5 linked regions of the Homo sapiens genome follow. The protein of the gene in region 3 interacts with the protein of the main gene of each other region in a pairwise test. Each region holds a gene or a part of one and is shown on either strand. Other genes may lie near its edges.

What was found.
Region 1: the proteins of NUDT3 (region 3) and XPNPEP1 interact in a two-hybrid assay, tested with the Homo sapiens proteins (one large-scale study listed by BioGRID and IntAct).
Region 2: the proteins of NUDT3 (region 3) and TNNT3 interact in a two-hybrid assay, tested with the Homo sapiens proteins (one large-scale study listed by BioGRID and IntAct).
Region 4: the proteins of NUDT3 (region 3) and NR2C1 interact in a two-hybrid assay, tested with the Homo sapiens proteins (one large-scale study listed by BioGRID and IntAct).
Region 5: the proteins of NUDT3 (region 3) and RAB17 interact in a two-hybrid assay, tested with the Homo sapiens proteins (one large-scale study listed by BioGRID and IntAct).

What each region holds. Positions count from the first base shown.
Region 1 is NC_000010.11:109,920,083-109,925,254, forward strand, and holds the start of XPNPEP1 (xaa-Pro aminopeptidase 1), read right to left. Parts: upstream 3,430-5,172; 5' UTR 3,352-3,429; coding exon 3,320-3,351; intron 3,165-3,319; exon of another isoform or gene 2,815-3,164; coding exon of another isoform or gene 2,798-2,814; intron 1-2,797. UniProt on the Homo sapiens protein: Metalloaminopeptidase that catalyzes the removal of a penultimate prolyl residue from the N-termini of peptides, such as Arg-Pro-Pro. Contributes to the degradation of bradykinin.
Region 2 is NC_000011.10:1,921,788-1,926,259, reverse strand, and holds part of TNNT3 (troponin T, fast skeletal muscle), read right to left. Parts: intron 3,430-4,472; exon of another isoform or gene 3,404-3,429; 5' UTR 3,386-3,403; coding exon 3,369-3,385; intron 3,213-3,368; coding exon 3,199-3,212; intron 2,706-3,198; coding exon 2,688-2,705; intron 1,162-2,687; coding exon 1,144-1,161; intron 1,005-1,143; coding exon of another isoform or gene 984-1,004; intron 1-983. UniProt on the Homo sapiens protein: Troponin T is the tropomyosin-binding subunit of troponin, the thin filament regulatory complex which confers calcium-sensitivity to striated muscle actomyosin ATPase activity.
Region 3 is NC_000006.12:34,386,170-34,389,669, forward strand, and holds part of NUDT3 (diphosphoinositol polyphosphate phosphohydrolase 1), read right to left. Parts: intron 1-3,500. UniProt on the Homo sapiens protein: Cleaves a beta-phosphate from the diphosphate groups in PP-InsP5 (diphosphoinositol pentakisphosphate) and [PP]2-InsP4 (bisdiphosphoinositol tetrakisphosphate), suggesting that it may play a role in signal transduction.
Region 4 is NC_000012.12:95,070,269-95,075,390, forward strand, and holds the start of NR2C1 (nuclear receptor subfamily 2 group C member 1), read right to left. Parts: upstream 3,351-5,122; 5' UTR 3,112-3,350; intron 1-3,111. UniProt on the Homo sapiens protein: Orphan nuclear receptor. Binds the IR7 element in the promoter of its own gene in an autoregulatory negative feedback mechanism. Primarily repressor of a broad range of genes.
Region 5 is NC_000002.12:237,583,713-237,588,184, reverse strand, and holds part of RAB17 (ras-related protein Rab-17), read left to right. Parts: intron 1-2,027; 5' UTR 2,028-2,030; coding exon 2,031-2,187; intron 2,188-4,472. UniProt on the Homo sapiens protein: The small GTPases Rab are key regulators of intracellular membrane trafficking, from the formation of transport vesicles to their fusion with membranes.

The sequences.
Region 1 (5,172 bases), on a different chromosome or scaffold from region 3:
TGAACCTTGAAAACATGCTAAGGGAAAAAGCCTAATACAAAAGACCACATAGTATATGATTCTATTCACATAAAATGTCCAGAATAGGCAAATCGGTAAAGACAGGAAGTAGACATGCAGTGTTGGTGGTTGCCAAGGGCTGAGGTGAGGAGTGACTGATTACAGGTAACAGGATTTCTTTCGGGGATGAAGAAAATGTTCTAAAATGATTGTGATGATAGTTGTACAACTCTGTGACTATACTAATAACTTGAATTGTACATTTTAACAGATGAATTGTATATAAGTGAATTATATCTCAATAAAGCCATTATAAATTTTATAACATCTCTTTCTTGTGGACAGGGATACAAGTCAGATTCTCACCGAATTTCCCATTACTTCATACGTAAGTTTCTAAGATGGTAAGTAACTGATCCCAATGACTGGTTCAGACACATGACTACAGAGGTGGAAGGTTATCATTTTTTTAGAGACAGGGTCTTGCTGTGTCACTCAGGCTGGAGTGCAGTGGCACAATCTTAGCTTATGGCAGCCTCAAACTCCTAAGCTCAAGCAATTCTCCTGCCTCAATCTCCCAAGGACCTAGGACTACAGGTATGTGCCATCACACCAACCTGATTTTTTTTTTTTAATAATTTTCTGAAGAGACAGGATCTCACCACATTGCCCAGTCTGGTCTCAAACTCCTGGCCTCAAGTGATCCTCCCACCTCAGCCTCCCAAAGTGCTGGGACTATAGGTGTGAGCCACCGTGCCTAGCCAAGGTTACCTTAAGGTAATCCTATTCATTCATTTTACAGAATAAAAAAACAAAGATAACTTACCATAGGCCATATAACTCAGTAGCCGCAAAGCCAAGACCAGAAACTAGGTCTGACAGGTGAGCTCAAACTCTCTGTGTGAGCATCAACACCTCCACCTTTCTGTCAGGATCACAGGAGCTACGAAGCAGCTCAATACTACAGCTGCTCTGTTCTTGTCGTATCTTGGTCTCCGCAGAGTCCAAGATCTATCCACCTTTCACTTGTTTGGACAGATAAAATTCTTAAGTTCTCTGTCAAAGCACAATTATCATTAAATATTAAGAACTAGAAGAATATACCTCAGGGACTATCCAACTCAATTCCCTCCTCTAGACCAGGAAACCAAGAAACAAAGATCAAATGACTGGCTCAAGGCCTCACAGCTAACTGCTGACAGAGCTAGAACCAGCGTTCCAGCCTCCCAACATCCAGCTCAGTGCTCCTACCCTTCCCAGAACTTCTTCGACCTACACCTTCTCAACTTCATGATGAGCCACAAAGTGGGTAAGGGGCAAGAAGCATGCAGAGCACTTTCAATCTTTGTATAAGATGGTTATGGTAGCACTAGAAAAGGCCTTCTCCCTCTTTTTCCAAGAAATTCTGGCAGGGTTCTGAATACCTCACCCCCCTGCAACCCCCAGTTCATGGGAATCACACATGTGTAGCGTTCAGCATGGGGCAAAACAAGGAACAAGATGCTCAATCACACCTAGTGGATGAGACAAGGGTAAACTGGAACAAGTTCTAAGGTTGGGAAGTAAGCAATGTTGTCTTTGTCTACCCAGAATCCATCCCTCCTTTTGATGGGAACCTTGGTTTTCCTTTTGAGAATGTACCCTCTCCATTTCAGCCCAAGGGGTTCAAAGCAGTCTTATCCAAACACCTAACAGGCTCTGGGACCCAAAGCAGGTCAATCCCTCCCTCTGGCCATAATGATTGGTTCACAGATGAACATGAGAATTAAGGCAGCCCAGTGAGCATCAGATCAGGGACTTCTGCTCCATTAGGAAGGAGGGCTCAACTTCTCTGCTGGGGCTGTCAGCCTAGAACTGTCATAACCTGCCATAAGGAGAAAGTCTCCCTGAGAATGAAGCGGATACTGAATAAATCAGAGCCAAGAGATGATAAAGAGAAGTCTGAAGCCAATGTTGGTGGTGCTCCCGGATTCAGCCACACTAGAAGCCAGCTCAACCCCATTTTAGGTAAATCAATTTGAGTTCAGTTTCCATTACCGAAACTGAAAGAAGTGCTCACTTTTACAAGGAATGGCACTCAAATTCTACCAGTAGGGGAGGCGCCTGTGGAAAATGGCTTCCCCTCTCTCAGCCTTTCACTGGACTTTCCTTTGAGGTAAAAAAGACTCTACCAGCTGGTGTAGAAAAGACTCTTCTGCTCCTAAAAGGCTGTGAGTCTATAAATCTAGCACAGATCACCTTGGCCCCCTAAAGACCACCTGAGGCCTACAGCCTAACTCATCATTATCCACTTGCCTGACTCCATTTCCAGCACTTCACTTACAGGAAGCTCCTTCCAGATGGAAGTTCTCCACCCCTCCCACATACTTCCACAGGGTGGGTCTGGTTTTCTGCTCACCCTTAACAAGCTGTGGCAACGGCAAATCCAGGTCAAGGTAGGTTTGGGACCCCCCTACTCACAAACACAAGCAGGAGCCATGGTCTGTGTTCAGCAAGAAAGCCTGGCCATGCTGCAAAGTGAGTGCATTCATGTCTCAAGTGGTTAGCAGGTGGGTGACCCCTTGGGGATGGCCAGGGAGTCTGGCCTGTGGCCTCCATGAACTCTGAACACCTCTCTCCGTCTCCCACTTTGTCAGAGGCTCTGATAAGTACATCCTGGTTATGGCAGGGGAATAAACTAAAACATGTTTAACTTGAGGCCGGGAAATTATCTGTCTCACCCTCCTATGCCCAAGGAGAGCCCAGGGCAGGCTACTGGGGGGATTTTCCTGGAGATTATACCAAAATATTCCCTTACACAGCCTCTGAAACCATTTGGGTAGGGAGGGGCCCGCGACCGTCTATCCTTGTGGCGGTGACAGATCAGTAGAGTGAATTGCAGGAGTCAGTATTGTCGAGATTGTAACTTGAGGTTTAGATTCCTGGGTAACAGAAGCGAGGGCAAAGGCTCGCCCACCTCCCCGGACACGAAGAGGGGCCAACTTCCTCCAAGAACGGGGCCTTCCCGCGGGCCAGGAACTGTGACGGCCGCCGCCCCCTCAGGCCGAGTGCAGCAGTTCCGCGGGCATACGCGTCCAGGAACCAGACTCGGGCCGCCCCGTGCCCACCGACCCTCCGGAAACGAACCGGATCTCGCCCGGCCTCATGGACCCCTTCCCCCGGCTCCTGTTCCGGGGCTCCGGCGAGCGCGGCCCTCGCCAGACTGCGGCGGGCCGGGCTCCTCACCCGCGCGTCCCTGCCCGCCGAGGTGCAACACGCGCGGCCGCGCAGCGAGGGCTGCACGCTGCCCGGACGCCGGCTGCCGGCGGAGTGCCCTCACCTTACTCGCGGTGGCTTTCTGGAGGCTGCCATTCGGCGGTGACGTGCCCCAGCCCACGTCAGGGGAGCGCAGACCAGCTGATCACCCGCGGAAGGGCCGGCGCGAAGGAGGCGCGAGAGCCGGCGGGCGGGCGGGCGGGCTAGCGCCGGGTCGGCCACGCCCTCGCCCGTGGCGGGCGCTGGCGCCGCGGCCCCGCCCACACGCAGGCCCCGCCCACACTCCCGGACCTGGGGTTCGCGGCCGCAGCGCCTGCGGCCCAGAGCGGGGCCTGCCCTTCCACACCAGTCCGCATTGCCTCTCCCTGCAGCGAGCGGGGAAAGGACGCAGTGCTGCTGAGTGTCTTCATTTTTGTTCGTTTTTGTCGTCATTCCTCAAAGAGGAAAAAGGGCTTTGCCGAATAAAGGGGCTACTGTCCCAGGGATTTTCCGGCTTAATTTAGGAGGGCTGAGAAGAGAGGGACGTGGCCGGCTCCGGAAGAACCTCGACAGGGTCTTCGAGGCTTTGGAACAGGGTCTCAAGCTTTAGAAATGTCCCCAAAAGTATGTTCCCAGAGAGCTTCAAAATCCAGCTCTCCGCTCCGCTTGGATAGTAAATAGCCCCTTCAAACTTAACGTCCAAACGGAACTCCTGGAACTCCCAATGCACCGAAGCAAAGCAAAAACGTTCTCCACCAGTCTTCTTTGCCATCTCAATCAATGGCTACTCTATTCTTAAGAGGCAAAATTTAGGAATCCTCCCTGCCTCTTCTCTTTCACACCCCACATCTAATCTGCCAGCAAAATCTTGTTGGCCCTGCCTCCAAAATAGACCCCTAATCTGGCCGTGTCACACCACCTCCACCTCCTACCCTCTGATGTGCATCAGAGGGTTGTACCACCCCACCCGTGTGGTTACAGCAGCCCCCCAAATATCCCCTCACCATCCCGCACCTGCACAGTCCAGCCTGAACAAAGCCGCCAGACCAGTCCTTTGAAGCGTGACACCAGGTCACTTCTTTGCTCAGCACTTTCCATTAATTTCTCGTTTCACGCAGCATAAAAGCTCCATTTGATCTACCCCCAGCCACATTTCCTCCTGTTCTCACCTTCCTCACTCTTCTTCAGCTGAAATGGCCTCCTGGCTCTCCTTGAAAAAGCAGGGTACACTCATGTCCCAGGGCTTTTGGACTTGCTCATCCCCCAAATATTGAGGCTCCCTTCCTCATTTTCCTTCAAGTCTTCGTTCAAGTATCACCTACCCTGACCATCCTATTTAAATTTGTAAATCATTCCAATATTCCTAATCCGCCTTACCCTACTTCATTTTTTCCATAGCACTTACCACCTTTTAACAGGATTCTTTTAATGTACTTATGTGTACTGTATTCTTCCCCCTCTCCTGCCACCACCCACGCACACAACAAAACCATCAGTGCAGATTGTTTCTGTTTTGTTTAATGATGAACAATATCTAACATGTCATAAGTTCTCATTATATATTTTCTGCAGAAATGAATGTTTCAGAATGTGCACTCCTCAAAAGCAGGGATGGTGGCTCTCTTGTTCATTGTTATTTCCCTGGTGCTTAGAACAACACCTGGCACTAAATGAAAGTGACCACATTTTTTTAAAGGTGAATGGCACCTCCTCCTGCTTTGACCTTGGTGTAAGGCCTAATATACCTGTATCAGCTAGGTTCTGCTACCTGCAAGAACTCAAAGTCGTTATTGAATAAGCATTTAGGCAAGCCGAATTAGACTGTGTAGTTAAAGCATGAAAAAACTAAAGATGTGCTTCCTGGGAAAGCAGCACACATCTGTTGCATTTCCCCAAATTTATGAAGCCAAAAACAGAGAGATTGTAAATAAAATACTG
Region 2 (4,472 bases), on a different chromosome or scaffold from region 3:
GCACCCCAGGTGGGGAAACTGAGGCTCAGAGGATGGCCGGGAGCTGTGGCTCTTGTCCTTGGTGGAGCAGGCTCAGTACTGGGGCTGGGCCTTCCTTTGCTCGCCCCCATCCCCTGTCTGTCCTGGGGCGCCCCCAGAAGGGTGTCCGCGCCTCTGGCCGGGGCACCAAGGCCCACGTGCGAGGTTGTAGCCTGGCCGGGTGGCACCAAGGGCCCACAAAGGCAGTGCTGGTAGCCCTGGGAGGCAGAGCCATGGATGGGCCATGGAAGGCGTCCCCAGGACCCCCACTTCCTGCCATCCCAACGCTGGGGGCCCACTCGTTCTTTCCCTGATGGAATTCTTTCCACCCTCCAAGGGTGCTGGCAGCCCTGGGCACCAGTGATGGCTCTGCCTGCTGATCTGGGCATGGGACCCCAGCCCTCCCATCTGCTCCCAGCCTGTGTGCACCTCAAGGGTCTCATAGCAGAAGGCTGTGAGGGGGCCTGGGGGGCTGACGAGGGCATGCTCACGAGGGAGCTGACTGTGCCAGGCTGCAGGGTTCTGCCCCCAGCCGCCTTCTCTCCCCTCACTCTGTGCCATCCCAAGATGTGGCGGGCGTCCTGGCCAGGCCCAGGGGTCGACGCCACCACGGGCTCTGGACTGCCTACCCTGGGGTGGAGGACTAGGGTGGGCCTACGTGTCCCCTCTGCCCCATGCTTGGGGACACCCTGCTGACCAGCAGCCCAGCCTGCACCTGCCTGGGGAGTCCCTGGCCCTACTGCCTGGGGGGCTGTGGGGAAGGGGGCCCACCCTCGAGACCCCATTCTCTCTCTGGTCAAGCATTGGCCGCGGTTAGTGGGTTACATTAGGGCCACATGTGGGGGCCCCTTGGCTGGCTGGTACCTCGTGGCTTCCCCACCCTCTCCCCCTCTCCCCCACCCCCACATGGGCTCCAGCCAGGCCCCGGGCCCCACATGGGGACAAGAAGTCCTGTGTCCTCATACCTTCCTCATGGACTTCTGCAGCTGAGGAGAGCCGGGGGAGAGAGGAGAGGGTTAGACAGGGGCACACAGCAATCCTTAGAGGCGGGGTGGAGGTCAACTTTGGGTGGGGCGGGAAGGCTGGGGAGTGGGCATGGGGGCCGGGGCCTTGGACCCCACTTACCTTCCTCCTGGGCTTCCTCTGAGAGCCGGAGAAGCCAGGAGCAGGAGAAGGCGGGGTTGAGGGAGACAGGGAACAGAGACAGTGATCAGAGTGTACTCAGGCCGCAAGGACAGGAGGCCGGCTGGCCGGGAGAAGAGGGCCTGGGGCTCGCTTGGCAGGGGTGAAAGATGGGGCTCAGTCCTGCATCTCTGGCCAGCCCCGGGGAGCACGGACTCCCACCAGCAGAGCTGGTCACTGTCAGCTGGGCTGGGCCCGGCCCCTGAGAGGGGTTCTGAGGCCCCTCCCACCCTCCTGGGGGCCTGGTATTCCCATGCCTGGAGGCGCCTGTGCACGGGGGCCCTTGTTAAGTCCTGCTCTGCAGGTGACACAAGTGAGAACGGGGACAGAACCCACAGGGCCTGCGGGAAGCCCCGGCTCTGAGTGCACCCGGAAACAAGGCTGGCACTGAGGGGTCTTCAGAGACATGTCGCACGAAGACCCTTCCGTGGCCTCCCGGCCTGCCACGTGGCTGCCCCAAGAGAAAAGATGGCTCCCCAGTGCCATATTTCCCTCGCAGAAATGAGTCTTTCCACCTTTTCGGCAGAAAAATAAATGTTTTGCTCACGTTGTTAGGGTAGCCAAGTGTTTTCAAAATATTTTCAAAACATAGCACTCAGGACTCCTCACAGGACAGCCCTGCCTGCTAAGGTTGCGTGAACGCGCTCCCCAGTTGAGTGGGTGCCAGGGATTCCAGGGCAGCGCCGTCGGCCTGAGAACCGCCACCCCACACGGTTCCCAGGTGCGCCCACACCCGCCCACGCCTGCCCGGGCACGATGGAGACGCCCACAGACCACACCTGGCCAGCACAGGGAGGGGGCTCCAGGCTCCACCCAGGGTTACAGCACAGGGTTGGGGGGTGGCATGGAGGGATGGAGACACAGAGAGACAGAGATGGAGATGGAGGTGGAGAAATGGGGACAGAGAGGCCAAGAAAGACAGAGACTGAGAGAGAGAGGCAGGGAGAGACAGAGACCAAGAGGCTGAAAGATACAGAGACAGAGAGAAGCTGAGAGATACACAGGCACACAGAGAGACAAAGTTGCCAAGAGAGACACGGAAAGGAACTGGAGAGAGATGGAGAGACTCTGAGATGCCGGGAGGGTAGAGATAGAGAGAGAGGCAGAGAGACAGCAGCACTGGGCACGCAGGGCACTCGGTGTTTTGAGGCCTTCATGACCAGCCCCAGTGAACTCCACACACCATGGCACACGGAGGATGAAGGATTAATGAAGGATCGTGAATGCATATTAATCGATTAAAGAGACAGGGGTTAGTGATGATTTAATGACTCATCCATCATTAATTAAGTGGTGGCCTCATTTATCATTAATTAATGATGAATGGTGATTGTTAGTGACTAATGATGAGGAAGATGGAAGGTTGATTGACAAGCTCAAGGCGGCCTGGAGCAGCCTGGGGAGGGGGTTCTGTGAGCGCCACACGGGAGAGGGGGGTTAAGTTCCAAGGAGGGGCTGGGGGGGCTTCCGGTGGTTGCCAGAATTACCTTCTTCTTCGTACTGCTCTGCATTGGGACAGAACAAAGAGGGGAACCACGTTAGAAGGGGCAGCCCGTGAAGGGAGGAGGAGGATGAGAGGCCAGTGTGTCCCGGCCCTGGACAGGCCAGCGACTGCCCCTGCCCAAGAGCGTGGAATCAGGGGTCCTCGGGCCCTGAGGAGGCGCTGGGGAAGGCAGAGGCTCTGGTGATGATGGTGGCTTTTGGGGGGCTCGGGGGTCCTGGATGCCCACGTCCCACAGTGGGCATGAGAGAAGCAGAGAGACAGGACCCAGAGCCTGACCTGCAGGCCCCTCAGGACCATGTGGCCACACTTCGGGGAAAAGACGAGGCCCCCCACTTGGACAGCTGTTTTCCGGGGGTCACTCAGAAGCCACCCATGGGATGCAGCTGATGTAGGGCTGTCAAGGGGACACAGGGTATGCACAGTCCAGCCCCCTGCCCACATGTGAGCCTTCCTTCTAGAGCAGGAAGTAGAAAGAAAATGGCTGTTACACTTACCCTCCACCTGTTCACTGTGGGGCAGGGAGAGAGAGAGAAAGAAAGAGAGAGAGGTAGTGAGGCTGGGCTTTGCTTGGACTTGTGCAAGATAGCGCATGCTCCAGCCCCACAGAAGCCAAGGGGCCAGGGTCCCGAGCCAGGCAGGGGGCAGCCACCAGCTGGGTACTCACACTTCCTCGTCAGACATGGTGAAGGTGGGTGGTTTCTGCAGAGAGAGATTCAGAGAGAGAGAGAGAGAGAGGATGGAAAGAGAGTTACGAGCTGCCTGGGTGTAGGATGGGGGATGGGGTCTTGGAGCAGCGCTGTGGGGGACCGCGGGCAGGGTTTGGGGGCCAGCTCTGGCCTTGGGTGAGTCCACCTCCTTGGGCCTCCCCTTTCTCCAGGGCTCCTGGCCCCTCCCAGCTCTTGGCGCCCCAGACTCTGTCCCCTCTTCCTGCCCTGGCTCCAGACTGGAGCTTGGAATCTTGGAGCTGGAAGGGATGTTGGAAGGTCGTGGCGTCCACCCCCACCCAGGGCAGACATCCTCTCCGTGGCGTCCCCTGAGGAGGGTCATCCAGAATGCAGGCCGTGTGCCGTCCAGCCCGCTCTAGACACTGGAAAGGTCCCGCTGATGGAGCTGAAACCTGTCTCTGGGTGTTCTCTGCCCAGTGGGTGTAGGTGGGGTCTCCCTGGGAGCCCCTGGATGACCGAGACTGGCTCCCCAAGATGAGTAATCTGCTCACCCTACCATTCCCCATGAGAACCCCTCTTCCCTATTTGAGCCCAAAGCTCCCTTCTGTGCCTGTTTTCCTATGGGGTGCCCAGAGTGTGTCCCACCACACCCCTCTGAGGACCCCTCCTCCAAGATCACAGAGCAGGGAAGCTGTTCCTTCTTGTTACCCCTGTACCCTGAAAACATTGAGGCTGAGCCCCAGAGCACGTTGGGTTGGGTCTGGGCCGCTTCCCGTGCACCCCCCCGGGCCGGGCTCTGTACAAGGCATACTTGGACTGCAGGAGCCCACAGAACAGCCCCCCCATTTCCCTCCCTGTGGCCGCTTTCCCTGGTCCCGGGGATGCTCTGGATCTGTCCCTGTCTAGGGGAAGCTCCATGCCCAGGACTGGCTGCCCTGTCCATGTGCGGTGGTGGCGCCAGGCCAGCATGCTGGGGACCGTCTCTCTGTGAGCTGGCCACCGTGCACACTGGGCGGCCAGGCCTGGGGAGGCTCTGAGCAGCTGCACCGGCATGTTGGCCAGGGTTTTAGAAAACAAAGTTCATTACAACACAGTACAGATTA
Region 3 (3,500 bases):
TACCAAGCTGGTTAAAGTGGTGGTTGGTTAAGAAACTGTATATCAGGTTCAAACTACTGTAATAAATGTTAGTTACCACAAATACCCAATTTAAAGATGTTATCAACATACCAATAACAATCAGTACAACTTTTTAAGTGGGAAGTTTTTTCCTGTTAATTTTTGTTTGTCAACAAGAAGAGAAGCCAGAAAAAGAAAAGGTAATCATTTTCATCATGCTGTTTGGTCTGTTTGTTCTTCCATCTCTCCCATTAGACTCTAAGCTCCCTGCATGTCTGTCTCCTTCATAACAGTATCACAGAACTTGGCACTCAATGAGTGTTCAATAAATTTGCTATGTTGACACATCCTAACCTGGATCAGAATTTCAGCCTCTCATTGCTGGTCTATAAATAAAGTTTTCTGGGGCTGGGGAAAAAAAAAACCTAGAATGATAGGTTTGGCTACCCATGATCTATTACCTTCTAATATAGTCATGGACTATATAACATTTCAGTCAACTACAGACCACATATACAAGAGTAGTCCCAAGAGATTATAATGGAGTTGAGAAATTCCTATCCCATCATAGCTGTGGTGTCACAGCACAATGCATTACTCATGTGTTTATGGTGAGTACACAATCAAACCTACTGTGCTGCCGGTCATATAAAAGTCTAGCACAGCTGAGCACGGTGGCTCATGCCTGTAATCCCAGCACTTAGGGAGGCTGAGGATGCAGATTGCCTTAGTCCAGGAGTTCAAGACCAGCCTGGGCAACATGCCGAAACCCTATCTCTACAAAAAAATACAAAAATTAGCCAGGCATGGTGGCATGTGCCTGGAGCCCCAGATACTTGTTGAGGTGGGAGGATCGCTTAAGCCCAGAAGGTCAAGGCTGCAGTGAGCTGTGATCACACCATTATACTCCAGCCTGGGCAACAGAGTAAGACCCTGTCTCAAAACAACAACAACAAAATGTAGCACATACAATTATGTGCAGTACATAATACTTGATAGTAAATGACTATTACTGGTTTCTGTATTTACTATACTGTACTTTTTATTGTTTAACTGTAGAGTGTATTCTATTTTTTTAAAAAGTTAATTGTAAAACAGTCTCAGAAGAAGGGATTGTTATCATAGGAGATGATAGCTCCACGCCTGTTACTCTCCTGAAGACCTCCCAGTGGGATAAGATGTGGAGGTGGAAGACAGTGATACTGATGATCCTGACCCTGTGTAGGCCTAGGTTAATGTGTGTTTGTGTCTTTGTTTTCAACCAAAGAAAAAGCTTAAAAAGTAAAATATGGGTAGCCAGAGGAACAAAAAGTAAAACAAACAAATACTAAATAATATTTTTAAATAAAGTTTCTAGAATAAAGATATAATGAAGAAAACATTAGCCAGGCATGGCGGCATACACCAGTTGTCCTAGCTGCTTGGGAGGCTGAGGTGGAAGGATCACTTGAGCCCAGGAATTCAAGACCAGCCTGGGGAACAGAGCAAGATCTCATCTCTTTTTAAAAAAAAAAAAAAAAAAAAAAAGTGATTTTAGTATGACAGGAAAGAAAGAGAAAAATATTGTTATATAGCTGTACAATGTGTTTTAAGCTAAGTATTACAAACGAGTCAGAATGTTAAAAAATGTAAAAGTTTATAAAGTAAAAAAATTACAGTAAGCTAAGGTTAATTTATTATCGAAGAAAAATAATTTTTTGATTTAGTGCAACCTAAGCTGTACAGTGTTTCTGTAGTGTACAGTAATGCCCTAGGCCTTCGCATTTACTCACCGCTCACTCACTGATGCACCCAGAGCAACTTCCAGTCATAATAAGTGTCCTGGTCAGGTGAACCATTTTTTATTTTTTGTACCGTATTTTTCCTGTACTTTGCTTGTTTAGATATGTTTAGATACACAAATACTACTGCATTACAATTGCCTATTTATTCAGTACAGTCACATGCTGTACAGTTTTGCAGCTTAGGAGCAATAGGCTATACCATATAGCCTACATGTGCAGTAGGCTATACCATCCAGGTATGTGTAAGTACATTCTATGATGTTTACACAACAACAAAATCACCTAATGATGCATTTCTCAGTACGTATCCCCAACGTTAAGCGACACATGGCTGTATTTTCATCTCTTTTTCTTCACATTCCATGTATGCTTCTTGACATTGCTTAAATTTATAAATCAAGGTCCTATTTATACTTATATTACTACTGTATTAATGCTAATAATATTCTGTAAACTATTCTATCTTGATTAAGGCCATTAGTGCCCATTAAAATTTTTTTTAATTGGGTTGAATGCCTTATTCGGTTGGAATTTTACATTCCCACAATGTGTGGCAGCTAATGCTTCTGGCACATCTACTGAGAACATAAAAGTTCTCCTGGAACTAACAAATTACTTCCCTTCCAACATAATTATATAATCTGAGAGTTGAAAAGCACCCTAGAGATTATTCTGTGGTCCAAAATCCCTCCCAATTAAGGAATCTCATCTAAAACTACTCAACTCTGTCTGCAAGAAGGGATGCTAATATTTAGATTCTCCATGACACAGCGCTGCAGCCATAGCAGGCTCTTTAATACATGCTTTTTGTTGTTTCTCATACATGTTTGTTGAACTGAACAAATCTAAAATGGACGTATTTCACTCATTTTATTTTTCTTCCCAGGCTTTAGCTGTAACACCCACTGAATCTGTAATTTAAAGCTTTGCATGATTCCTCGGCTCATTAGCCAACGTTCAAAAAGAAATTCAATAAAGGAAACTCAATGCATTAAAGAAACTCATTTTAACAGTTTAAAATTTTAAGCTCCTGGCCTGGCAAAGTGGCTCTTGCCTATAATCCCAGCATTTTGGGAGGCTGAGATGGGAGGATCTCTTGAGCCCAGGAGTTTGACAATAGCCTGGGCAACAAAGGGAGACCCTGTGATATGCTATGGCTCTGTGTCCCCACCCAAATCTCATCTCGATTTGTAATCACCACCTGTGGAGGGAGGGAACCTGTAATCCCTCCCATGTGTTGAGTGAGGGAGGTAACTGGATCATGGGGAGTTTCCCCCATGCGGTTCTCATGCTAGTGAATGCTCACGAAATCCAATGGTTTTACAAGTGTTTGGGAGTTCCTCCTTCCCTTCTCTCTCTCCTGCTGCCTTGTGAAGAAGGTTCTTACTTCCCCTTTGCCTTCTGCCATGATTGTAAGTTTCCTGAGGCTTCCCCAGCCATGTATAACTGTGAGTCAATTAAACCTCTTTCTTTATAAATTACTCAGTCTCAGGTATTTCTTTATAACAGTGTGAAAATGGACTAATACACCCTGTCTCTACATAAAATTTAAAAATCAACCAGATGTGGTGGCTTGTGCATGTAGTCCCAGCTACTTGGGAGGCTGAGACGGGAGGATTGCTTGAGCATAGGAGGTTGAGGCTGCAGTGAGCCATGATCACACCACTACACTCCAACCTGGGTGACACAGTAAGACCCTGTCTCAAAATAAATAAA
Region 4 (5,122 bases), on a different chromosome or scaffold from region 3:
TTACAGGCATGCACCACCATGCCCAGGTACTTTTTGTATTTTTAGTAGAGAAAGGGTTTCACCATGTTGGCCAGGCTGGTCTCGAATTCTTGATCTCAAGTGATCCGCCCACCTCAGCCTCACAAAGTGTGGGGATTACAGGTATGAGCCACCACACCTAGCCAACACACACATTCTTTATACACTGTTGGTGGAAGGTTAGACTGTTTTAACCTTCCTAGAAAAGTAATTTGCCAATGTATACCAAGAGCCTTAAAAATGTTCATATTGACTGGCTCAAAAATTTATTCAATTTTCTTCCATTCAACAAATCACTTGTTGAATGCTTACTAGGGGCCAGGCATTCACAGAACGACTTATCCTTATTCTCCAGCTTCAGACCATCAGTGCTGCTTTAATGGCAAGGGAACAAAGTTTTAACCCCTTCCCTTGGTATTCATTCAATATTTATTATGCATTCACAAGGTGCCTGGCACTGTGAACACCACAATGGAGAGTTCTTTTATAATCCGACTTCCCCCTATTCTCATTTCCTATCACTCCCAAGAGGGGCCTCTGTTCAGGTCAAACTACGATGTTCTTTATTCCCCCAACATATTCCTACTTTCTCCCTCATTTAAATTCCACCTGACTTTTAAGATTTGGTTCAAGCCAGGGGCGATGGCTCACGCCTGTAATCCCAGCACTTTGGGAGGCCAAGGCACGTGGATCACCTGAGGTCAAGAGTCCAAGACCAGCCTGGCCAACATGGTGAAACCCCATCTCTACGAAAAATACAAAAATTTAGCCGGGTGTGGTGGACGGCGCCTGTGATCCCAGCTATGCAGGAGGCTGAGGCAAGAGAATCGCTTGAACCTGGGAGGTGGAGGCTGCAGTGAGCCGAGATCGTGCCATTGCACTCCAGCTTGGGAAACAAGGGCAAAACTCCGTCTCAAAAAAAAAAAAAAAAAATTTTGATTCAAATAGTTTTTTACCCAGTCTTTCTTGAAGGGTCGAACAATTATTTTGTAGACTAAGGTTGTTAGCTAGGATTCAGAAATAGATTTCTGTTAACTCCTAATACTGTCTGTAAAATTTTATCTAAAGGTGCATTTTTCTAGACAAGTTCATAAAAGACTTCAAGAGGCTGTAGATGGTCTTGTCACTGAAAAACGGCAACGAATTATATTTATACTATTATTTATTGTATGCTGTTTTGTTTTTATTCCCCAAGAGTAGGGATTATACATTGTGTGGCAGACACACAGACGGTGTGTGTTTGGGGATGTTTGCTCCCTCAAAATCCTTCCTTAAGATGCGGTGCCTGTAATTCCAGCTACTCAACAGGCTGAGGCAGGAGGATAGCTTGAGGCCAGAGATCTGTCTGGATAACAAAATGAGGCCCCCCACCATTTCTATAAAACAAAACAAAAAAACCTTTCCTAGAAGAAACTAACATGCCCCTTGAAAAACTAAGATTAGCAACATTTCATAAAACCCACTTTTTTTTTTTTTTTTGAGACGGAGTTTCGCTCTTCTTGCCCAGGCTGGAGTGCAATGGCGCGATCTCAGCTCACTGCAACCTCCGCCTCCCGGGTTCAAGCAATTCTCCTGCCTCGGCCTCCGGAGTTGCTGGGATTACAGGTGTGCGCCACCACGCCCGACTAATTTTGTATTTTTAGTAGAAACGGGGTTTCTCCATGTTGGTCAGGCTGGTCTCGAACTCCCGACTTCAGATGATCCGCCCACCTCAGCCTCCCAAAGTGCTGGGATTACAGGTGTGAGCCACCGCGCCCAGCCGCGACCCACTTTTAATGATAGAAATACACATCGCTTTTTCAGATATACTAACTGGACTTAAAGCAAAGTTTAAAAACAATCATCGGCCGGGCGCGGTGGCTCACGCCTGTAATCCCAGTACTTTGGGAGGCCGAGGCGGGTGGATCAGAGGCGGGTACATCACGAGGTCAGAGTATCAAGACCATCCTGGCCAACATAGTGAAACCCCACCTCTACTAAAAATACAAAAAACAAAAACAAAAACAAAAACAAAAAAACTAGCTGGGTGTGGTGGCTCGTGTCTGTAATCCCAGCTACTCGGGAGGCTGAGACAGGAGAATCGCTTGAACCTGGAGGCGGAGGTTGCAGTGAGCCGAGATCGCGCCACCGCACTCCAGCTTGGCGACAGTGAGACTCCCTCTCCCTCTCAAAAAAAAAAAAAAAAAAAGAAAAAAAAATCGAGTATCACCAACCACACAGCAGAAATGGTTCAAAAAAGCTCAAAATCGAAGGTCCATTTACAAATTCTAGCGGTACTAAACCCTAAAGGCCGTAATTTTAGGTCTTTCTGCTTTTGCTTTCCGGTTACTTTTTTAAAGGCTGACCTACTTACTGAAGATTATGGGACAACCTGGCAACATTCGTACTGCACAAAAATGGTATCTGCCCGAGTTGGAAGAATTATTTCTTAACAAAAGAGCTATCTATCGGAAGCTTGGACATGCCCCCTGCAGTGAGAACCCTGGGGCCGTTCCATTTCTTCTGAAAAGATCCAGGCCCACAGGCAGCGACGACCCTGGCCAGATTTGCCGTGAGAGAAAAGTGAAAGTGGGGGGAGTCATTCTGTCCGTCCCGTGAAAGCACGGGAGTTAGTGACGGGATGCAGGCCGGGACTTGCGGCCACTAGCCGAGGGTCGGCCTCTCCCACGTCTCACTCGTGCCGGCGTTAGCCGTGCGCCCTGGAAGCCCCGGCGCTGCGCGCGGCTCTCCCGGGCGGGGAAAGCTGCAGCGCCGCGGAAGCTTTCCCTGCAGGTTAAAGGTCAGAGGCGCTGCGGTAAGCGCAGCTGGAAAGGGGGTTGTGTGCTCCAAGCCGCTCGCCGTCCGGCCCCGCGTCCCGCCGCCCCTGTCGCCCCCGCCTCTCCCGGGGCCCCGCGCATTTGGCGCCGCAGCTCCGCGCTCCCAGCCGAAGTCGAGCAGCCCCAAGCGGCGCTCCCAAACTGAACGGCTCCGCTGGCCGCAGGACGCCGGCCGGGGGATGCGCTGGGACCGCGTCCGTTGGCGGTTGGGGTGAAGGGCACCCCCTGGCCCCCGCCCCCGACGCGGTCGCTGGTGTCCCCACCCAGCGTTTCTTACCGGCGCTTTTGCGCCCTGCTGACTCCGGCGTCGGGCGCCGACGCGACAGTCCCGCGGCTGCCACTCGTGGATTGGGGGGCGCTCCGGGAAGAGAGGTTGAAGAAAGCCGACGGGATGTGGGATCGAGATTCACGGCGGAGAGAGCTTTCTGTGTTTGGGTATTTCTGGGGGGTCAGAGTTCGTGACCTCTTTCTCGGCTCGGCGGCGCGCTATCCCGCCAGCGCCTGCGCATTAGCAACGGGGAGAAGCGGCGAGAGGAGGTCGTGACGTTCCCAGGGTGGGGTGGAGGGATCGGAGGGCCGAGCAGCGGCTCTGTGAGTCCACTGCCCCCTTTTGGCTTGGAGGCAGAGTGCCCCGCCAGAGCTACGCGTTCCCAGCCAGGTAATTTTTGAAGCCACGTGCAAAGGTTTAAGCATCGTTTGCCAAAGGTGGGCATTAGGGGAGGTTTTGAGTCAACGTTTTAGATTTGAGTAATAAATAACCCTCTGGGTCTTAGGCATATCTGTTTCTAATTTCTGGAAAACTGGGCTCTGGGGTAGAGTCCAATCATATTTAAACTTTTTTTTTTTTGTATTACACTTTAAGTTCTAGAGTACATGTACACAACGTGCAGGTTCGTTACATATGTATACATGTGCCATGTTGGTGTGCTGCACCCATTAACTCGTCATTTACATTAGTAAGCTTTATATATAATGACAAGCTGAGGCCGACTCATGCAAATGGTAAGGCAAAGTTTCACTTATAAACTGTTGTGAGTAAAGAGACATAATGGCTAAACAGGGCAAGAATATAATCACTAGAGACTGGGCACGGTAGCTCACGCCTGTAATCCCAGCAAGTTGGGAGGCCGAGGCGGACGGATCACTTGAGCCCGGTTGTTTGAGGCCAGCCTGGCCAACATGGCGAAAACCCGTCTCTACAAAAAAATTAGCCAGTCCTGGTGGCGCGTGCCTGTCGTCCCAATTACTTGGAGGCTGAGGTGGGAGGATCACCTGAGTCAAGACGGCAGTGAGCCAAGATCACACCACCGCACTCCAGCCTGGGTGACACAATGAGTCTTTCTCTCTCTCTCTATATATACACACACACATATATATGTATATTCCACATCCTCTCTATAATATATATATTATTATATATTGAGGATTATCCTCAATGGCCGTTTTTTGTCTGTTTTGCTCAGTGATGTATTACCAAGCACATAGGACAATGCCTGCTATTCAATAATGATGTATGAAATGAAAGCCAGGCAAGTGGCTGCTGGGAGGCCAAGGAAAGATCACTTGGGGCCAGCAGTTGGAGACCGGCTTGGGCAAGATAACAAAACCCTGCCTCCACAAAAAAAATTTTTCAAATTGTGAAATGAAGAGACATTGGTGGAACATCGCATTCTGACAGTGGCCACCTGTAGTGGCAAGGTGTGGCAGGAATAACTGCCCTGTGTGCAAAGTACTCTGCGCTTTAGATTTTGAAGCATTCTTGAAATTTCTAGTTTTTTTTTAAATCTCCTTTGTTTTGTCATGAAATTTCTATTTTATCTAGCTTAGGTCGGCACTGTAGGAAAGCAGCCACAAACTCAGGGCAGAAATCCAAGGAAGGAAAAACAAACGTTTGCTGGGAATGAGAACATCTCTGTTATTTCTCTCTGGAACTAGGCAGACGGACAGAGATCAAGGCATGAAACAATCCCTAACAAGTAAAAATATGCTTTATCCCTCATTAAAAATCCACCTCTGCTGAGCACAGTGGCTTCTGCCCCCAGAGCCTTGGGAGGCTGAGGTAGGAGGCTTGCTTGATGCCAGGAGTTTGAGACCAGCCTGGGCAACATAGTGAGACTCCATCTCTTAAAAAAAAAAGAAAAAAAAAAGGCATGGTGGTGCAGGCCTGTATTCCTAGTTACTGAGGAGGCTGAGGTGGGAGGATTGCTTAAGCCCAGGAGTCTGGTCCAGTGTTGGCACCATTGCATTCCAGCCTGGGCGAGAGTGAAACTTTTTTTTTTTTCCAACCT
Region 5 (4,472 bases), on a different chromosome or scaffold from region 3:
CTCATGACCCAACCCCCTTCCATTAGGCCCCACCTCCTAGCATGGTTGCACTGGGGACTAAGTTTCCAAATCTGCTTTTTGGAAGATCCATGCAAACCATAGCTGGCCCCAAGAAATCATCCTCAATCCAGGTGGATATTTCAAAGCACAGGTGCTGTGTTATGTGCTCTTCATGCTTGGCCTCATTCATTCATTTCTTAGGAATTAGTACTTACTATGTGCTAGACACTGTTCCCAGCTCCAAGGAAAACAGAATTCTAGCAGTGATTCCTAGTCTTGGCTGCATACTGAGATCACCTGGAGAGCTTTTCTTTTTCTTTTTCTTTCTTTTTCTTTTCTTTTTTTTTTTTTTAAGAAACACAGATGGAAAACTTAATGTTATGTTTTTTATCCGTCTCTGAAGCCAGCATCATACTTGATGGTGAAACTTGAGTATTTCCAGCTAAGATGGGGTTCCAGGCATGTTTGGGATAACCACCCGAGTCTACTATGTGGAACCCTTCTTCTCTGATGGGTAGAGAGCCCTAAACCCTCCTGTTCTGGACTCCATGACTCTCAGTCACTTTCTCTCTAGAACGATCTTCTTGGTATCTAGGACTCAGTCCTATTTGTTTTGAGATTGATTCCAAACTTGATTCCCTCCCCTCTTATCCCTGCAGGGCAGACCAGACCAGTCTGTGGCCATGGCTCCTTACTGGCGGCAGTGAGGGCATGTGGGCTGCTTCCAACCACTCCTGCTTTTCTTCTTTCCTTTTCAAAATTCCTCCCCTTCCCCCTTTAGGGAGCCTCCCTCTTGCCCACTGTGGTGAGGAAGGGAGAAGAGACTCTGTTCCCAGGACCAGCTGCCCCTGATGGGTTTCATATTTTTTGTGGGGAGCTTCTCTTCCTAGATAATAAACACAAAGTGATAACATTAGAACATTATTAGAATGTCACCATTTTGCAACCCCTTAGTAAAATAGTGGGTCGAAGTAATAGTCTTCAGTGACTGCCAACATCACAGAAAGACAACTGGACATTATTTGCCTTCTGTGGGAAGTGCACGCACACTCTCATGGCAATCTTGCCAAAAAATAGCCTGTATCTAATCAGGTTTATGTCCTGAACCACCGCGGTATCAAAAATACAGAGTTCATAGGACTCTATTCAATAACACAGGGGTGTAATCAGCAACATCCGTACTGGAAATCTACAGGACAACCTGATTTCTTCAACACATGAACTGCAAAGAAAAAAAAATACCTGTATCTCTACTGAGATTTGCAGATGATAGAATGCCTGGGATCTGCTTTACACAGTACCCTGCAGGGGGAGGTTTGGGAGTGTGAGTGATACAAATGGCTGAGCTGATTACTGGGGAAGCGGGAGGTGGGTCTATGGGCCCATCGGACCGTTCTCTCTATTGTGGTGTGTACATGAAAGTTTCTATGATGAAAAATACGCAGGGGTCGCCCACGTTTATTTTGATCACGAAGTTGGTTTTCTCTGGGGCATATTACTGTGGGTTCTGAGGCTTTAGACACAATGGGAATGTGTCTACGATGTTTTGAGATCATTGAGACACCAACCTTTTTTTAGGTAGATTTTTTCTGAAACACCAACTTTAATCCATGAACAACCACCCAAGAAATGCTCAGATGCTTTTTACCTCTCCTTGCATTAGATACTTTGGGGACAAGTAATAGATTTGTAAAAACTGAAAGTAATGGAAGGAGGACAACAAGCCCTGAGACCGTCACATGTAATCATTGCTTTTCAGGGTCTGCAATGACCCGTGCCCGGAGCTTTCCAAGCAAAGCTCCTTTTGTTCCTTACCACAGACCTAAAAATGGACCTAAAAATTGCAGATGGGGAGATGGGGCATGGGGTGCAGAGGGAAGCAGGAGTGTGGACCTAGGTGGCCTCTGAGTTGGGAGCTCTGTATTGGGCCATCTGCTCCTGACCGAGAAGCAGCCCCGGGGTTGAGCTTGCTGAGATGATGTGGCTCCGATGTTCCACTTGCTTCAGACGGTTGTGATTCTTTGCAGGGCATGGCACAGGCACACAGGACCCCCCAGCCCAGGGCTGCCCCCAGCCAGCCCCGTGTGTTCAAGCTGGTTCTCCTGGGAAGTGGCTCCGTGGGTAAGTCCAGCTTGGCTCTTCGGTACGTGAAGAACGACTTCAAGAGTATCCTGCCTACGGTGGGCTGTAAGTGAGGGCAGAGCACCCCTTTGTTGGTCTTCAGTGCAGAAGTCTGGGCTGCTGACCCACACCTGGGGCAGATGGGGACGAGGCCCACCTAGGAATCCCCATGCTGGGACCTTGAGCTGCCTGTGTCCAGTGCGTGAGGGGAGGGGGTGAGGTCCAAGAGGGCAGCCACAGAATCTACAAAGACAGGAAATGCCCTTGGCTCTGGGTCAGGTTTCAGCTCAGCTGGAGTCTGCAGGGGGTGGAGATTCTGGGGTAGGACCTCTGGCCCCAAAGGGTCGGGCTGGGTGCGAGGGATTATGCTGGTGGAAGGGACAGCCCGGAAGAAGCCTCCTGGGCCCTGGCCACTCAGCGGCCTAAACCAGCTGTCCTCTCCCACCACCCAGGCCGCCCTCCTGCTAACACTGCTCCCTTGCTTTATTTACCCCAACAGCATCTTCCTTCCTGCCTGGACTTGGTTTACCAGCTTGGCCTGGATTGGGGGTGGGAAGATCATTTTGGGGGTGGGCGGGGAGGGAGACCTTCTCTCTGTGTTTCTTAAAAAGGCTAACCTGTCATGAAGCTCAGGAGTAACTGTATGGGGCATCTGCAGGCTGCTGGCCTCCTTCCCATCCTGCTGTGGGCACAGTCTGCCTAGGCAGTGAAACCCAGTTTTCACCTGAAATGGGGAAAGCCAGCGTGTTCTTTATGCCCATTCCCCCTGGGGGAACACATGCAGAATCAGAGCCTCGGTTTCAAATTCGGACTCTGACATGGATAAGCTGCACATCTCCAAATTCACTCATTCATTTACTCATCTAACAGGCATCTGTTGAGCATGAACCCTTTTGCAGGCCTGCGTTAGGTGGGATGGATTCTATAACCAGCTAAACAGATGCACCAAACACAGAAACACAATTGCAAGATGTGGCACATGACGTTAGCTATTTAGGGAGCCCTTCCATTTTCTCAGGGGGGTGGTTCCTGAAGGATCCCCAGGGGATACAGGGGAATTGGCAGGGGTCTGCCTGGCCCGACTCCCAGAGCTAGTGGTGAGAAGGGCCAGGGTGATGGTGAGAGGCTGTCTGCAGAGGGGGACCCTGGGGAGAGAGTCAAGGTTACCCTGTGGTGTGCAGTACAATCCTCTTCTCCATTAGCAAGGAGATCTGTACCCCTCACCCCCCAAGTCCTGATATTGGACTTGGCTTCCTTTAAAAATACATCAAAATGCCAAGGCTGGCCTGAGGGTGGCCTCAGTTGAGAATAGAGCACACAGATGGGGGCCTCACCAGGCCTGGATGTTGAGAGCTTTGTACCTGGGTGGCTGGTATTCAAGATGCAGAGAGAGGCAGCAGGTGTCAGGCCAGGTGAGCTGGACTGGGGATGGATCTCACTCTGACACGGAGGTCTGCACACTGTGGCTCTCTGGCTGTTCTTGTTGTTTTGTGAGTAAGGTTCTGTGGAGACACAACTCTACCTCTTCAGGTACTTACCCTCTGTAAATGATATTCTTGCTGTTCCTCCTCCTCTATTCACTCTAAAATGGCAGCAGGGTTGAGTGGTTGCAGCAGTGACCCCATGGCCAGTAAAACCTAAAGTATCTGCTACAGGGCCTTTTACAGAAGGACTCCATGACGCCACCCTAGCAGAGCCTGCAGGAGCCAGCGCCCAAAGGCACTCACTAGGTGAGCGCAAGCAGGGCTGAGAGATTCCGAGATGCCCGGTTGGAGCGTAGGAGGGTGCTTTGGATTCATTGAGACGTGCTTGGACGTGCTCAGCCCACAGAGAGCTGTACCCACAGAGCACCCACCTTTCTTGGGTGGGGGTGGGGGGGTGATGTGTGGGGTCTGTGAAGCTTCAGGGTGGTGCCGGGCATTCTGTATTTTACAGGTGAGGGGGATGGAGGCCCCGACAATGAGGCGCGAGGCCCTAGTTCCTTTCATTCCAGCAAGCCAGGGTCCGAGCATCCCCCTCACACCTGCCCTGCCTGTACCAATTGCCTGCCCTCTCTTCAGGGGGCCTACCAGGGTCGGGGGGTGAACAAAGCTGGGCTTGCTGGGGAGTCCTAGGCCAGGTTGGGGGTCTTTGCTTGGGGGGCAGGCCTGTATGTCTCACTCTACTCCTGGTCCTCTGTCTGGCCCCGCAGGGGCCATCCCCCTGCCGGCAGCTTTCAGATGAAAGCCAGGGCCTCCCTTCCTCCAAGCCCCTCTCTTCCAGGCCTGGGTTTATCTCCTCTCTCTGAGGGGAAGGACCGTTCTACAGGCTGGGCTCTGCCTTTCACCCAGAACTGGTGGGTGGAGTCTTTG